Linked DNA regions of Homo sapiens: region 1 is linked to region 2. The links come from fine-mapping of genetic effects on gene expression. A gene starts in region 2. The other region holds a variant in brackets. All regions are shown on one strand. Distances are between the middles of the regions.

What was found. PIP is the estimated chance that this variant, and not a neighbour inherited with it, causes the effect. A credible set is the group of variants that fine-mapping cannot tell apart.
Region 1: its variant is the best candidate, but not a certain one, in a credible set for the expression of ZNF778 in prefrontal cortex (ROSMAP, PIP 0.85).

The regions. Positions count from the first base shown.
Region 1 is chr16:89,291,062-89,299,061 of GRCh38, reverse strand. It overlaps ANKRD11 (ankyrin repeat domain containing 11), which reads left to right. Exons shown (of 13, transcript NM_013275.6): 5 at 7,879-8,000. It overlaps LOC124903757 (keratin-associated protein 5-2-like), which reads right to left and starts at 2,934. Exons shown (of 2, transcript XM_047435030.1): 1 at 2,298-2,934; 2 at 1-1,871. It overlaps LOC105371414 (a long non-coding RNA gene), which reads right to left and starts at 2,934. Exons shown (of 3, transcript NR_136339.1): 1 at 2,298-2,934; 2 at 1,100-1,871; 3 at 745-911. RefSeq lists enhancers at 2,821-3,666, 3,667-4,513, 4,514-5,359, 7,053-7,899. The variant G/A (reference allele first, on the strand shown) is at 3,619.
Region 2 is chr16:89,213,484-89,223,125 of GRCh38, reverse strand. ZNF778 (zinc finger protein 778) reads right to left here and starts at 5,423. Exons shown (of 7, transcript NM_001201407.2): 1 at 5,216-5,423; 2 at 1,974-2,129; 3 at 943-1,034. The coding sequence starts at 1,998. ZNF778-DT (ZNF778 divergent transcript) reads left to right here and starts at 5,473. Exons shown (of 1, transcript NR_186410.1): 1 at 5,473-7,966. RefSeq lists enhancers at 4,007-4,536, 4,537-5,067, 5,592-5,641, 6,591-6,885.

The DNA.
Region 1 (8,000 bases), 77 kb before region 2:
CCAGTGGGTGCTGGCACGTGAGCAGCCCCCGGGGAGTCAGAGTGGGGCTGCAGCGAAGGCCGTGGTGGTCGAGGTGAGGGTGGTGGCCAGGTCTTGTTGCCGCAGTGAGGATTCTGGGGTTACCCTAAGAGCCACCACATTCAGGCACTCAAGAAAAAGCACGTCAAAATAAAATATTTTCACATGATTAAGAACTCCGCGTGATTGGTCTCTGGTCCTCCTATTTCTCAACCATTTTTCCTCTCTAGACGTAAGCAGTTTCTCATACAAAGGGAAGCTTGGACTAGCAAAGGGAAGGTTCTTGCTGTTTAAAATTCTGTAATCCCCAAGCCGCAGCAAAGGCTTCCCTGACACCCCTCAGAAGTGCACTTAGGCCGGTAGCCAGGCCCATGTTGTCAACACAACACAGACAAGCTGGGGTCCACAAGACCACCCGAGGCTCAGCGATTTGATGGAGGACCCCGGGACTCAGGATAAAGGTGGTGGCTGCCGTGGGAGCAGTCAGCCAAGTGAGGGGGGCGGGCAGGGGCCGTCTGCTACCTCCTGGCTCCATGCTGTGGGACTTTGGGCCCATTTCTCAGCCTGTCTGTGCCTCTCAGCCCTTTCATCCATAAAGCTCTGCTGTGTGAGGAGCTGTGGCCCCTCGACAGAGGGGTCCCCCCAGCCCTGTGCTCTCACCGCCCATGCATTCGGCCAGGCAGGCCTGTGCCCTGCAGGAGTGACGGACACAGCTCAGGCCTCAGCGCAGGTTTGGACGTTGATCTTGTTTATTTTAAAATACCCACGATGCTGTGTGTGTGGAAAGGAGGCCCAGGGTGGGAAACCGTTCTGTTTGGTTGTCATCTGAGCCCTTTTGCCGACATTGCTTCCTTCCTTCCTGGCTTCTTGTTCACCATGGTGACCGCTGGATGCTGGTGAAACCACCATGGGGCTCAGGCCCTGCTCCTTCCCACCCTTGCCACATAACCCTGTTTGCCTCCACAGGCTTCCTGTGGAACTGGTCCTTCCGCCCCACCCCACCCTACCCCTACCCCACCCCGGCCTGGAGATGGGGAAGGCATGGAGGTTGTGCAGGCAAGGGCTGGACGCACAGCCTTACCTCTGTGTGACCCCTTCACATACACTGCGGAAGAAGCCAAAGCTGAAAGGCGTAAGAGATGACCCAGCTCCCATCGGCAGGCGGGAGGGCTGAGGTCACGCAGCAGACAGGGGTAGGCCCTGTCTTTCTTTAAGTGATCAATGACGGTAACTGACAGAAAGAAGGCAGAAAGAGAGAGAAACCTGGAGATTGGAAGGAGAAGCCAGTCTCACCACAAGATGGCTCACAGTGCTCAGCGGGCGCCCGCCAGCTTCTCTTGTTGGCCCAGGACAGGCTGTTCGGAGCTTGTCTTGCTGCCCCAAGGAGGATGTCAGTGGGAATATGGTTGCGCCCTCGTTTGGAGTTGTGCGAGCGTTGAGCTCAGTGCCCGGGTAGGAACTTGGCGTTGTGGACCATCCGCCTCGTGTAGATCGGCTGTGATTTAGACTTCTTGGCCAGAAGTGCTGTATTTCATGGCTTTGAACATCCGGATGAGGCCAGATGTTTGGTGTGGACAGCATGGTTTTTAGTCAAATGGAAGAGAATCTGTGAGCAGCAGCCGTGCTACAAAGCTGCACCCGGCCCTGCCCATCAGTTCCATGAGCTGTAACCGCCATCGGCCGTGAACTTTCTGTTGTTTGAAAATATCGCCATGGAAACATCCCTTTGTGGAGCAGAATCAAGAATGTATTTTGACGTCTTCGAGTTTTACGGTGGGACGCAGGAGTTGCACATTTTCCTATGTTGACAGTATCGTGGCCTGTGTCTCCTAAAAGACTCTTGCTAGAAAAGCCTAGAAATTAGAGGTGCTAAATGATTGATACAAAAGGCATTTGTTCAGATGAGCAGCTGAGGCCACACACCTCCACGTCCCTGGGGCCCAACCTCAGGGTCTCTGCCTTGGAGCCCAGCTTCAGACCTCCCAGGGAGGTAGAGGAAGGGGCTTTGGGCCCAGACCCCACGGAAAGCTTGTCCCCTCGAGAGGGCCACACTTCCTGGACACTGGGCTATCAGGGTAGACACTGTCCCCCCAGCTAAGAGGGACAGGTGCTGAGGAGGGATGAGGGGCTTTGAGAGGTCACCAATGAGACTTCTGACCCATTCCTGCCCTCTGGTGGGGCTGGCATTTGGATTTGTGCTGTTTTATGCTGCTGGAAGTGCCCCACACTCCCTGGGGCCCCCACCACAGCAAAAGCAAACCCTCCCTGGAGAGACACACCTTCCTCATCCCGGCCTTCCGGCTCCCAGAGTGTAGACAGACGAAGAGCCTGGTTGGAATTACAAGACGTTGAGGAAGAAAGCTGTTCTGAGAGGGTCAGCAGGGGTCAGCCCCAGGGACCTCACGTGCTGGGATGGTTAAATGCACAGTATTCATCAGGGGAGTTAAAACCATGGAGTATCATGCAGATGTTTTTAAGGCATATGGAATATCTGGAAATGAAAACTATAATCACTGAAATAAAAAACCCAGTGAGCAGATGATGTAGCTTATTAGACACAACATAAGAAAGTATTGGTGAATTGGAAGTTCTAACAAAAGAGATTGCCTAGACTCTGGAGCACAGAAAGAAAGTGAGACAGGAAGCCTGCAGGAAGCGGGGAGCTGTGGAGGAGAGAATGCAGCTTAACAGGCACCTCGGCAGAGGAGAGAGCAGGGCAGGGAGACGGTGGCTCCAGAGGCCGGCAGCAGAGGGCTTTTCAAGGTTCATAAAAACACAAGCCTCAAATTCAAAAAGTATAATGAATTATAAGCAGGAGAAAGAGCAGTAATTACACATTTAAATATGACTCTGACGTGAAGTTTTCAGAACAGCAAAGGGAGGATGTTAAAAGCAGCCAGAGGCACACCCACCTGTGGTCCCAGCTACTCCTGAGGCTGAAGTGGGAGGGTCGCTTGAGCCTGGGAGGTGGAGGCTGCGGTGAGCTGAGATTGCGCCACTGTGCTCCATCCTTGGCTACAGAGCAAGACCTTGTCTCAAAAAAAAAAAAAAAAAAAAAGGCAGCCAGATAGAGAAGACACTCCCTGCAGAGCACCCCCAGGCGGTTCACAGCCCCCCCCAATCCCACCTGCACAGAGCACCCCCAGGAAGGTTGCAGGCCCCCCACATCACATCCCACCTGCACAGAGCACCCCAAGGAAGGTCGCATCCCCCCTCCGATCCCACCTGCACAGAGCACCCCTCGGGAAGGTCACAGCCCCCGCTCCGATCCCACCAGCACAGGGCACCCCCAGGCGCGTCACATCCCCCCCATCCCACCTGCACAGAGCCAGGTGCCACCGCCGTTTGCCTCGGGACGCTCGCCTCCAGTCTCTGCTGCCTCAGAAAGGCCATGGCTGGATGCAGGGGCAGGAAGTGGGCTCCAGCTCCCAAAAGCATTGTCCACTGTGGCCCCTGCTGCCCCAGGCCAAGGCCGTGCTCCAGCAGCACCAGCACCAGGAAGGGGCATGGGGCTCATGGAGGGGTCTCAGCTCTGTGCTGAGGAGGAGAGGGTTCCGTGGAATCTTCCACTGGCCAGCTGGGTAGTGAGGTGTGCTGCCA[G/A]CCTCAGAGGGCTGGCGAGGTGGATGTGGTTTGAAGAAAGGCCCTACGGGCCTTGTTTCTTAAAGATGAGGTGGGTGGCCGCCCAGGCTCAGGTCAGCGGACACAGGTGCCACCGCCAACATGCTTGACTTGGGAAGACACAGCCTCTCCTGGCACCCTCCACCGCTCTCCCTGGACCTCTGCCCTCAGCCCCAGGCTGCCTGAGCCCACAAAGCCCTCAGAGCCTGCAGGCCGTGTTCCGACTGCAGGGCAGGGGTGGAAGGGGGCTTCTGAGTGCTGTGGAGTGGCTCCCACCCCCACCCCGGGGTCAGAGGCACCCAGGGCCACATCTGTCTGTGGTGCTGTAGCCGCACTTAGTCCCTAGACTTGCCAGTTTTCCACTTTGCAACTTGGTGAATACCATTTGGAATTCATAGAAATTGTATTTGGCTTCCATTTGGACGGTAGAAACAGGAAATTTGCAGAATGCTACAGGAACTTGCTGGCTGTCCTAGGGGTAGCTCCAGATGCTCTCACCCTTTTCTTACCTGCAGACAACACCCCGCGCCTCCTGCGCTCTGCACTGTGTGGAGGGCAGGGAGCAGGTTTTGCAGCCTCTCCTCTCAGAGGAGCGTTTCTCAGGGGCACACGGCTCCAGGTCATCCCAGGCCTGGGGTAGGAGGGGCAGGCAGGCAGGCAGTGCGGGACCCACTTGTGTGGTGCCTGACAGTGCAGGTACAGGTACGGGCTGTGTGTGTGCACGTCAAGGACCCGCTCAGCTGCTCTCAGACCATGGTGTCGCTGGGTTGGAATGGAGAGCAGGCATTGTTGAGCCATGGGCTGTGGCACATGGGGGTCTCGCTCCGTGGGTGGGGCTTTCCCTCTACCCCAGAAGCCACTGGAGTGGCCAGTGTCTCAGAGCTGACAGACGTGCAAGTTTGCTGGGCTCCGGAGCTTGGGTGGTGTCTGGCGCGTGTTGTGGGCGTTGTAGATGCTCGTAGCTGCAGGTGCTTGTTTCACAGTGGAGAGATTGGCATCCTGGGAGATCTGGTTTCATATTGGACTTTTTTGGTGTCAGGACAAGTAAAAAGTCCTGTTTCAGGACAGGGAGAGCTGGGTGAAAAGTTGCTGCTTCCTGGGAGCAAGCTTTTCCTGAGTGTGGGGCAGAGCAAGGTCCCTGTGGTGGCTCCAGGCACCAGAATTCACCAGGAGGTTGGCAGCACCTTCCATGCGAATTGCTGGGAGCCAGCCCTGTAAAGCTGTCCTGGCCGCGTAAGGGAAGCCAACTCAGGCTTTCTTCACCAAAGCTCAGAGCAGAAGCAGAGGGAGGGCCTGGTGGGGAGCGGGAGGGATGTGGCCCTGACCCTGAGGCTCAGGCCCTGGAGCCCACCCAGGAAGTCTCTGGGGGCACCGAGTCCTGCCCATTCTGCACATGTTGGGTGTGAGCTGCACCTGAGATGGCCGCCCTGCAGGAGTGGGACATGTTCTGTTTGCCACAAAGCAGCTCTTTGCTGCCCCTCAGAGCGGGGACGCAGCGTGGGCTCCTGGCCTGCCAGCCTAAAGACTGACTTCTAAGGAACGCCTTTGCCTCTGCCTGTTCCTCTGACACACGCCTCCTAGGGTCCTTTGATAACTTAAGAGCATGGCAACGCCTGCACTTCGGGATGTAAACATACTGCAGCCCCAACACCGCCCCAGCTCCTCCCAACACCGCCCCAGCTCCTCCCTCCGCAGCCCCACCTCTGCCCCAGCTCCTCCCTCCGCAGCCCCAACTCTGCCCCAGCTCCTCCCTCTGCAGCCCCAATACCACCCCGCCTCCTCCCCTCCGCAGCCCCAACACCGCCCCAGCTCCTCCCTCCGCAGCCCCAACTCTGCCCCAGCTCCTCCCTCCGCAGCCCCAATACCGCCCCAGCTCCTCCCTCCGCAGCCCCAACACCACCCCGCCTCCTCGCTCTGCAGCCCCAACTCTGCCCCAGCTCCTCCCTCCGCAGCCACAACTCTGCCCCAGCTCCTCCCTCCGCAACCCCAACTCTGCCCCAGCTCCTCCCTCCGCAACCCCAACTCTGCCCCAGCTCCTCCCTGTGTCCACCCCTAGTGGCCACATGCAGCACAGAAGTGGGGCCCACTCGCTTTTCACTTCTGATGGTCAATGGAATAAGGAGATGCCGTCTGCTCCCAGGAGTCTCCTGTGCTGTGTGCAGCTTTGCAAAGTCTGTGTATCTCGGGGATTCTGCTTTCCTCGTGTTCTCAGGGGGCTTCGTGTCTCCAAAACATTAACCCCCCTGCTCTGGGTGACGGAGGGAGCAGGCCTCTGAATGTGCGTGGCTAGGTCTTGGGGATCAGGGCCCTGCAGAGGTTCTCAGCTGCTTCTCCAGGCGACTGTGGGCAGACCAGCTGCTCGGTGAGTGTGGGCCCCTCCTGGAGAGAGGAGGACTTGAGGGCTATCGGTGGGGGAGCTGGGGTTTCTCCAGCAGCTTCGTCGCCTCTTTCCTAGAGGGAGGCAGCCGCAGGCCTGCTTCTGTTGTTTAGAGGTGGCTATGAGAAGCAAGCCTGGGGAGGGCCGGCCCCCGGGCAGCATGGAGGGTGCAGGGAAAGCATGGGGCGCACGCAGAGACCCACAGCCAAGCGCCTGTGACCCAAGCTCACTGCTAAGGTGTGGCTACGCCAATGATGGCTGTAGGCTGGGGCTCATTGGCCGGTGGCGAGGCTGCCTCCCCAACCACCGTGTTTGCCAGGTTCTATGAGGGGCTGGGGCCAAAGCTCAAGTGCTTTCTCAGATCTGTGCGTTGAGGACTGTTTACAGACTAGCTGGTGGTGGCGATGGCAGCCTGCAGTACTTGGGGTTTTGCCCATGAGTGTGACGCAGGTCGATGTGGCCAGGTGTGTGCCTTCCTGCAGGCTTGTCCCATAGGACATACGAATCCACATTCTCAGCATGCCCCAGACCGAATTCCTAAGAAATCAGCCTCAGATACCTTGGAAAGAACTAGAGTGGGTGGGCAGCGTCCTCTTAGGAAATCGACGGGCACATTCACGGGGACCATGGTGGTGAACAGCAAGAGAGTCGGGCCCTGGGAGCTGAGCTGAGAGACTAGTTAAGACCGTTCTGTGTTCCAGTGACCGGGCAGGTGTGGGATCCAGTTAGTCCGTTGTTAGAGATGTCTCCCACCTCTGTAGGATCAAACACCAGCCGAGGGAGAAGTCCTGAAGAGAGGCTTCTTGGGAGTGCTGAATGGAAGGGAAGGGAGGTGCCTCAGAGGAGAGCTTCAGAGGCCCACGTCTTCCTGGTGGCCCTTCTTCCCCGAGTCAGGCCTTGGCAGAGCCTTGCCTCTGCGCTGCACCTCTGCAGTTTCACCCCATGACCTAGAAAACCCCAGAACCCGCAGGGCAGCTGGAGGAGGATTCAGAGGTGTCTGGCCCCTGATTTCCATCCACAGGAGGGCACTGGTCAGGCAGAGGAGGAGGCATCTTCTGTGCCCCCGACTCTTGGTGCTTGGGGTCTTCTCTTCCCCGCCCCTGCCTCCTGCCTCTTTTAAAAGACACAGCACGTGAGTTGCGTTAGACGCCAGCCGAGTGTTCTGTAACGGGTCAGATGAGTGCAGGGTGTGCTTGTTACGAGGAGGCTGAGGTGGAAACAGCCGAGCTCTCACACCGTGTCTTGTTAGTGCTCTGTGTTGATGCCTTCAGATGCCTCCAGCCCAGTCCCTGTTGTGGTGCTGCAAGGCTGGTACGCTCCTCGAAGCACCATGGCATGAGATGGAGGTTCCTAGAAGCAAGAAGAAAGGTACAGTACTGACCAGTTGGCCTTGATTTACTGATGTGTTTTAAACTGTGTCTGCCATTTTATATCTGCACTGTTTGGAGGAGGGACGGGGAAGGTGGAATTGAATTACAGACACGTGTATTGAACAGAGACCTGTCCTGTGTGAGCCAGGTCACCGGTGCTAAGCTGTCCCACCGCATTCATGTGTGGTACGAGGTCTGGGGAGGCCCAGGAGAGGTGCCTGGAGTGAGTGGATGCTCGGTGGAGGCCCAGGCTTAGCAGACTTGAGGGGCTGGTAACGAGGTGTTTAAATGGTCTCACAGTCACTGCTGAGAGGTGAGGTGGGCGGCACCAATGCTCCCAGCACCGCTGTGCTTTCCCCATACACAGACCTTCCTTTCTGCTCTGTCAGCTGTCAGGTGGACGCAGGGGGCTCCGTAACATTAGGTAAGGACCTAGCTTTGGAGGACACCATGGCATGAAATCTCTCCTCCCTCTCTCCCTCGCCCGCCTCACAGAGAAGCAGGGCCCTGAGCGGAAGAGGATTAAGAAGGAGCCTGTCACCCGGAAGGCCGGGCTGCTGTTTGGCATGGGGCTGTCTGGAATCCGAGCCGGCTACCCCCTCTCCGAGCGCCAGCAG
Region 2 (9,642 bases):
CCAACGTGTCCATCGGTATTCACTGAAGAATGAGGAGGCGGGGCCCTACGCCTATGGGACTGTGAGGCCTCCTACTGTCTACCCCATGGCCCAGTGGTCCCAGGAACCCTTCTCTGCCCGCACACACGCCCTGTCGCTCTCCTCCAGTCACGCGCACCCTGTCGCTCTCCTCCAGTCACGCGTGCCCTGTCGCGCTCCTCCAGTCACGCGCACCCTGTCGCTCTCCTCCAGTCACACGGCCGCAACGACACCTCTAACATGTGAGCTTCTCTCACCACGCTCACTGGGCACTCCCCTCGCCTTATGTCCCTCTCCTGAGCACACTACAAACAAGTGGTAACTCGTGATGTGGAAATAAGTTCCCAGAGAGGATACCTTCCCCTTCCTTACCATGTGTCAGAGCACTAAGCAAAGTACGAAACACGCATTTGGCACAAGGGTGAAAATAATGAGTAATGTTGTGGCTGGGCGCAGTGGTGCAAGCCTGTAATCCCAGCCCTTTGGGAGGCCAAAGCGGGTGGATCACTTGAGATCAGCAGTTCAAGACCAGCCTGGCCAACATGGCAAAACCCCGTCTCTACTAAAAATACAAAAATTAGCCAGGCATGCTGGTGGGCACTTGTAATCCCAGCTACTTGGGAGGCTGAGGCAGGAGAATTGCTTGAACCTGGGAGGCGGAGATTGCAGTGAGCCGAGATTGGGCCATTGCTCTCCAGCCTGGGCGACAAAGCGAGACTCCGTCTCAAAAAAAAAAAGTAACACTGAAATACGGGGAGGATTTTCACAGTAACACCTGACCAGCCAGGCTCTTCTCCCTGGAGGCGTTCAACTAGGGACTCGGTCCTTGAGTGAGGCTGTGCAGACAAGTCTGCTCAGACAGAAACTTGTCTATCTGCTGAATACCAGTATGTTATTTTAAGAAAAAATACAGTTTTGGCATACCTGGTAACAATTTATCAGCCAGCCAGCCACCATCCCTGCTGCCTGTGTCTGTTCTTCATGAAGGCAGACTGAGTCCCTAGAAACATGACCTCCTAAAAAACAAAGAAGGCAAGAAGGCATGAGAACCCAGAGCTGACCCTAATTCCACACTCATGGACCCGGAAGTCATTCCATCCTAGCAGGAAATTATCACGTACTCCTGCACACTCAGGAAAACGCACACACACAGATATACAGTGTCAGGGAATTCCCACATACACCTGCACACTCAGGAAAACACACACACAAAGCCATACAGTACCTCAGGAAAACACACACACACACACAGCCATACACTTCCTCAAGAAAACACACACACACACAGCCATACACTGCCTGAGGAACACACACACACACACACAGTCATACAGAGCGAGGGAATTCCCATGTACTCTTGCACACTCAGGAAAAGACACACACAGCCATACAGTGCCTCAGGAAAACACACACATACAGCCATAAACTGCCTCAGGAAAATACACACACACACAGCCATACAATGCCTCAGGAAAATATAGTCCCTCAGGAAAATACACACACACACACACACACACACACACAGCCATACAGTGCCTCAGGAAAACACACACACAGAGCCATACAGTGCCTCAGGAAAACACACACAGACACACACACAGCCATACAGTGCCAGGGTAGTCTGTTTCGCCTGGTGACACAAAATGTTTGTGAGCTATGCCGCCCATCAGGAAATGGTAACAGGCTCCTATTGCAGATATGGAACGGTACGCCTTGAGGAACGTGACTCTTCATTTGCCCGTGGTGAGAAAACTCATGAAGGAGTTTACACATCATCCCTCCCCAAAGCACACACCCTGGGGCTGACTTACAGGTCAGCATTCTCTGGCTCACTCCAGCAGCTGCAATAGGAACCCGGAGCGTGACTACTCAGGCCCCGTCCATGGGCCTGATACACACACTGTGTATCAGGACCTAGAGCAGAGGCTCTGAGAAGGAGCCCCACCAGGACTTACCGTGGGCCAGGTCAGGGGCTGCCATCCTGGGAGGCTGACGGAAGCGTCTGAATGCTCCTTTCCTGAAGCCAAGGCCACTGCAGGGCAGCTTGTGAATCTATGTGGAAGGTACAGTCTCCATTCCTCCTGACCCACGGATGGCTGGATCCCTATTTCCTAGCAATCATGATGAAGAAGCATTACTTCCCAGTTATCAAACCTCACGCATTAGCTTGTTTCTGCAGATGATATATGTGAAAGCCACTATATCCACTTTACTCTCTTGAGGACTAGTAATATCCACGTCACCTACTGAAGAGCAGTATATGGGTCAAAAGACACAACAGAAGCCTTTAATTATCAGAACAGCCATTCACAGATTTCACCCGTGTTCATACCTAAAACAGCCTGGATTCAGATAACATGAACTGGTCCACATCATCCACTTAGGAAGTGGTGAACCAGGACGGTTAGCTGGTACATGTTCGACCATCTCGTCACAGGTTTTGTTTGCTTTTGAGATGGAGTCTTGCTGTCACCCAGGCTGGAGTGTAGTGGCGCAATCTCGGCTCACTGCAACCTCTGCCTCCCAGGTTCAAGCAATTCTTCCACCTCAGCCTACCAAGTAGCTGAGACTACAGGCGAGTGCCACCACACCCAGCTAATTTTTTTGTATTTTTAGTAGAGGTGGGGTTTCACCATGTTAGCCAGGATGGTCTTGATCTCCTGACCTCGTGATCCGCCCACCTCGGCCTCCCAAAGTGTTGAGATTACAGGCGTGAGCCACCGTGCCCCGCCCCGGTCTCGTCAGTTTGTACTCCTGAGTCTGCGGTCACTCCCCAGCAGGACAAAGGTAGGTCTAGAGCTGTACTTTCTTATTCTACCGATGAGGTGACTAAAACAGTAAAGTTTCACATGTCAGAAAAACATGTCCATTCTCCTTGTATAAACTGTACTTACTACTAGGTGTCGGCGGGGGCGAGGTCTTTGGGCTAAAAGACCCACAAATGTGTTGACTTTGTTGTCACCTGCACAGGCTCTTTTCCCTCCTTCAAAAAGGGATGTAATATTCAGTTCTCCACCTTAACATCATCCCCAGAGGACCTGACCCTCAGACTGCACTCATACACTATGTTGACATGAGGCTGGTTGGATACAGTGAACAGAAAATGAACACATTTTAGATAACTTCATATGAAATATACACAACAGAGAGCTTGTGATTCAGGGGCCATAGTTTCTACGAGTTCAGCAGTCTGGATTACATAAAGACATCCCCTCCGATATGCACCTCCAAGTTACTGCACCTCATGACACCTATAACCAAAAAAGAGGCACAACACTCTGCAGATCTTTTAATTTTAGGGGCAACGTATATAACAGCGTTAACGCTCTACACAGTTGCCTGTAAGGCTGCCAGTGCCAAGTGTGGATCAGTGCACATTCAGGGTGCAGGACAAGCTTCTTAGGCACTTGGTGGAAAGGACCCAGCAGACCCACTGACACAGCGTCCATGGTAAACAGGATGCCGCTGGATGCCTCTGGCAAGCACTGATAAGACTCAGAGCACAACCCTCTGGGATTTCAGAGTAAATCTACACCCTCTAAACGGTCATCTATGCAGCTGACCACTTACCTTTTCAGAAATAGGCTGGGGCTTGGAACCAGGACAGAGTAGAGAAGGAACAGCTAACATGGGACATGAGGTGACTAAGGCTGAACTCAGCCATCTGAGACCTCGTGGACCCAAAGGCATAAGGTGCTTACTATCCGCCCTTTGCCAACCTCTCCTCTGAATTCAATTACAAGTTCATAGGAAGCAGCAAGAAATGGAGGAATATTTAAACGTATCACGAGAAAACAACACCAAAGTCAATATGATAGAGAAACCACAGGGGTTGTTCTAGGTGAAAAGACATAAACGATGGGAACAGATAAACCTTGAAGGGCTCTTAGTCCCCAAAATACCCAACAGCGCAATGTTGGAAAAATGTTGAGAATCCTAGATATTACACAAAGTAGACAGTGGATGACCTCCTTCTTATTTTTTTATTTTTTTATTTTTTTGAGACGGAGTCTTGCTCTGTCGCCCAGGCTGGAGTGCAATGGCACGATCTTGGCTCACCGCAACCTGTGCCACCCAGGTTCAAGCGATTCTCCTGCCTCAGCCTCCCGACTAGCTGGGATTACAGGCATGCGCCACCATGCAAGGCTAATTTTGTACTTTTAGTAGAGACGGGATTTCTCCATGTTAGTCAGGCTGGTCTTGAACTCCCGACCTCAGATGATCCACCCGCCTCGGCCTCCCAAAGTGCTAGGATTACAGGCGTGAGCCACTGTGCCCAGCGGACCTTATTATTTTTAATTATTATTATTATTTTTTGAGACGGAGTCTCGCTCTGTCGCCCAGGCTGGAGTGCAGTGGCGCCATCTCGGCTCACTGCAAGCTCCGCCTCCCGGGTTCACGCCATTCTCCTGCCTCAGCCTCCAGAGTAGCTGGGACTACAGGAGCCCGCCACCACGCCCGGCTAATTTTTTGTATTTTTAGTAGAGATGGGGTTTCACCGTGTTAGCCAGGATGGTGTCGGTCTCCTGACCTCGTGATCCACCCGCCTCGGCCTCCCAAAGTGCTGGGATTACAGGCGTGAGCCACCGCGCCCGGCCTAATTTTAATTTTCTTAGATGAAATACTAATATTGTGGTTTCAGTAGGATAATGTCCTTACCCTTAACAGACGCTTTACCAAGTATTTAAAGGTTAAGTATCATGTGTGCAGTTTAATTTCAACTTACTTACACTCAAATAATAATTCACCGTAAGGTTTATTTATTGGGGGAGAGAGAAAACATGGCCCAAAGCTAAAAAGGAGTAAAACGATTGCAGTGGATATTCCTTGTAGCAGATGTTCACATTTTTATTAGATTCAGATTTTCTAAAGCAAAACGTGAGAAAAAATACAGTTAGTCGAAACACACTGTTCACCGTGGATTCGATTACTCCAAGACCAGCGGGACAACGGCCGCATCCCTCCCGCCCCGAGGGCCGGGCCTGGAAGTCCCGGCGGCGAGGGACGCGCGCTCCCGCTGGCCCCCACGGGCTAACTTTCACAGGGAGCTGCACGCCCGGGGCGCTCAGGGGTCTACCTTACGCTTCGGTCCCAACACAATGTGCCAGAAACAAATAAAAAACGTCAAAGCCGAAGCCAGATTCTCACAGAAACACGCCCTGTTCAAAGTGAAGGAAGCAAAGGGCCCCTCTCTCACCAGCTCCGCGGAATGGAAGCGCTGCCCGGGTCTACCGCGAGCGGCGGCGACTTTCCCTTCTGGAAGCGGTGCCGGGGGCGCAAGGCGCGAGGCAGGCGGGCGGGCGCCCACTCCCGGACCAGCTTCCCCGCGGACAGCCCGAGGACACGCGCGGAACTCTCCGGCGCCAGCACGCACCGCCGCAAGAACCGGATCAGCTGTAAGACAGGCGGAGGCGGGGCCGGCGCCGGAAGAGGGGCCGGCGCGTCTTTGGCGTCACTTCCGCCTCCAGCCTCCGGGCCGAAGCTTTGGCCTATGGTGCGGGGAGGTAGTAGTTTCTTCCGCGAGGGTGCGGGAGGGCCCCGGGGCGCCCTTGGGAACCGGGCTGGAGGCAGAGACAGGCCCGGAGGACCAGGCGGACGTAAGGATCAGGCCTCTGGACGCAACTGCGGAGCCGGAACAGACCAGGAGGGCGCGGTTGGGCGGGTACAGCCAGGAAGTGCTCGTCGCGAGCGCGGCCCGCGGTTCGGTCACAGCGAGAAGCCCGCGGGTGCTGGGAGTGCTCGGTCTTCTCTCGATCTCTGCAGGGAGTCACTGGCCCCGTTCCTTTTTATCTGTCTGAACATCACGCCGAACTTTTAACAGTTGATTCCACTGCATTTTCAATGTGGTATTTTTTTTTTCTGTAAATGTTCATCTATTTTTCGCTTCAAATATGCGTTTCTGTTACTTTTCTAATGTACCGTAGGAGCCAAGACCACCTATACTACGTTGCAAAATAGCACTGATACCAGGGGTTCTCCCAAGGTTCATTCAGAAATGTCACATGATTCCAGTAACAATACGAAAAGGTTTTTTTTTTGGAACCAGGCATATTGATCCTGGAGTTCACATGGAGGAACAAATGTCTCATAACGCAGACGACGCGGACAAACAAAAGCGCAATGCCCGACAGATGCGAAAACAGCCTCTGTCATTAAAACTGTGTGCTAGTGACACATGAACAGGAAACAAATGGAATATCCAGACATCAACCCAGTAACATGGAAATTTGGTTCATAAACATAATTTCAGAGCGGTGGAACAAACATGCAGTTTATAATGAAAGGTGCTAAGACAAATGGTTAGCCGTCTGAGAAATGATGAAATTAATTCTGGATCTCACAGGGATAAACTCCAAACGGATCAGGAGTCTAAATGTGAAAAACAAAACAAAACCACATGTGAAGTGTTCACGTGATTTCGTGGCTGATTAAGAAACAAGATGTGCCCAGGAGGTGGCGGTGGCGCACAAGCTTTGACAGGTTGGAGGGTGAGGGAGTCTCACGCACCATGAGATTACCCACAGGCTTCGAATTGGGGGTCACTACTCAGAAAAGAGAAAAAAATGAGCGTGGGCGGGGGGCGCGCAGAGAACTCCCAGAGAAGAAGGAGATCAGACAGGGGGAGGGCTGACGTGACTAGATCACGTTTCTCAGCAGCCTGACAGGTGTCTGAGTCACAAAGCTCTGAAGGGCAGCAACGGCTTGCAGTCTTTAGAGCCCCAGGATTTATCTTATCTATGGCTAGCAGAGATTGGACACAATTTCACGAAGTATACAAAGCAACCACATGCTAAATGGTTCAACACTATGAGTGTTTGGGATGTGTTTTATTTATTATTTATTAATTTTGATACGGAGTCTCCCTCTGTCGTCCAGGCTGGAGTGCAGTGGCACGATCTTGGCTCACTGCAACCTCCGCCTCCCAGGTTCCAGCTATTCTCCTGCCTCAGCCTCCCAAGTAGCTGGGATTACAGGTGCCCACCTTGTAATTTTTAGTAGAGACGGAGTTTCACCATGTTGGCCAGGCTGGTCTCAAACTTCTCACTTCAGGTGATCCACCCGCCTCGGCCTCCCAAAGTGGTGGGATTACAGACGTGAGCCACTGCAGCCACCGTGCCTGCCCTTGGGATATGTTTTTTTTTCTTTTAATTTTGTTTTGTTTTGTTTTTTTGAGACGAAGTCTTGCTCTGTCGACCAGGCTGGAGTGCAGGGGCACAATCTTGGCTCACCGCAACCTCCGCCTCCCAGGTTCAAGCGATTCTCCTGCCTCAGCCTCCAGAGTAGCTGGGATTACAGGCACGTGCCACCAAGCCCAGCTAATTTTTGTATTTTTAGTAGAGATGGGGTTTCACCATGTTAGCCAGGATGGTATCTATCTCTTGACCTCGTGATCCTCCTGCCTCAGCCTCCCAGACTGCTGAGATTACAGGCGTGAGCCACCGCACGGATATGTTTTAAGTAACTGAATGTATTAAAATTTGACTTTGGCACCAGCAGGCTATTGTGAATAATGTTGCTTTGAGCATCGTGTGCAAAAATATCCTGGACCCTTGTTCTCAGCACTTTTGGATATATATGCAAAAGTGGAATGGCTGGGTCACATGATAATTCTGTCTGATGTTTTGAGAAACCACTGTCCTGTTTTCCAGAGCTGCTGCACCATTTTGTATTCCCATGAGCAGGTGCACAAGGTTCCAACTTTACCACATCCAGCCAACAGTTACCTCCTATTTAATGGCTAAGAGCCATCACCACCGGGGTAATGTGATCTCACTGTGGCTTTTGTTTTCATTTCCCTAATGTTTAGTTATGTTGATCATCTTTTCATGTTCTTATTGGCCATCTGTTATCTTCTTTATTATAAGTCCTTTTCTGAATTAAATTGGTTTTGTTGTTATTCTTGAGTTATAGGAGTTCTTAATAAACTGAATATTAATCCTTAAGCAAACACAAGATTTGCAAATATTTCCTCCCATTCTGTGGGTTTCCTTTTCACTCTCATGATTGTCCTTGGATGCACAAAATTTGTAATATTGATGTAGTCCAATTCATCTAGTTTTCTTCAGTTGCCTGTGTGGGTGATTTCATAACCAAGAAATCATTTCCAATTCCAGTGCCATGAAGTTTTTTCTCTATGTTTTCTTCTAAGAGTTTTATACATTAGCGCTTACATTTAGGTTTTTGATTCATTTTGAATTAATTTTTATATGTGGTATAAAGTAAGGGTCCAGCTCCACTGTTCTGCATGTAGATATCCAGTTTTCTCCAGCACCATTTCTCCCCCAGGCTCTATTGAGGTACAACTGACAGATTTAAAAAAATCATATATACTTAAGATGTGCAATGTGATGATTTGATGTATGCACACACTGTGAAATGACCATGATCAAACAGATCTACACATCCATCCCCTCAGCTAGGCACCTTCTTTTGAGTGTGTGGTGAAAATAGTTAAGATCTACTATCTTAGCAAATTCCAATCATCATACAATATAGTAGTATTAACTAAAATCTCCATGCTATACATTACATCCCAGATCTTACTCATCCTTTAACTTAAAGTTTGTACCATTTGACCAACATCTCCCCATTCCTTCCACCAACCCCATCCTCTGGCACGCAACATTGTACTCTCTGCTTCTAGGAGTTCAGCTTGTTTGGATTCCATGTGAGGTTACATAGGATTTCCTTTCTTTTTTTTTAAAAAAAGGCTAAATAATCGTGTGTGTGTGTATGTGTGTGTTTGTGTCATAGTTTTGTTTTGTTTTTAGAGATAAGATCTCACTCTGTTGCTCAGGCTGGAGAGAGTGCAATGGCACAGTCATGGCTCACTGCAGCCTTGAACTCCTGGGCTCAATCATCCTCCTGCCTCAGGATCCTGAGTAGCTGGGACTACAGGCATGCACCACCACACCTGGCCTTCTTTTTCAAGATTGGTTTAGCTAATTGAACTCCACTGAGATTCCATATGTGCACTTTATTTCTTTTTTGTTATTGTTGTTGTTTGAGACAGAATCTCGCTCTGTCACCCAGGCTGGAGTGCAGTGGTGCAATCTCGGCTCACTGCAAGCTCCGCCTCCCAGGTTCACGCCATTCTCCTGCCTCAGCCTCCGGAGTAGCTGGGACTACAGGCGCCCACCACCATGCCCGGCTAATTTTTTTGTATTTTTAGTAGATACGGGGTTTCACTGTGTTAGCCAGGATGGTCTCGATCTCCTGACCTTGTGATCTGCCCATCTCGGCCTCCCAAAGTACTGGGATTATAGGCGTGAGCCACTGCGCCCGGCCCTCATTTTTTAATTTATGTTTTTTGAGATGGAGTCTCACTCGGTTGCCCAGGCTGGAGTGCAGTGGCGCCACCTTGGCTCACTACAATGTCCACCTCCCAGGTTCAAGCAATTGTCCTGCCTCAGCCATGCCAGTAGCTCAGATTACAAGCGCGTGATACCATGCCTCGCTAACTTTTGTATTATTAGTAGACACAGGGTTTCGCCATGTTGGCGAGGCTGTACTCCTGACCTCAAGTGATCCTCCTACCTTGGCCTCCCGAAGGGCTGGGGTGTAGGAGTGAGCCGCCGCACCCTGCCTGTGCGTGGTATTTTAAAGCTAATTTTGGAAGTACTT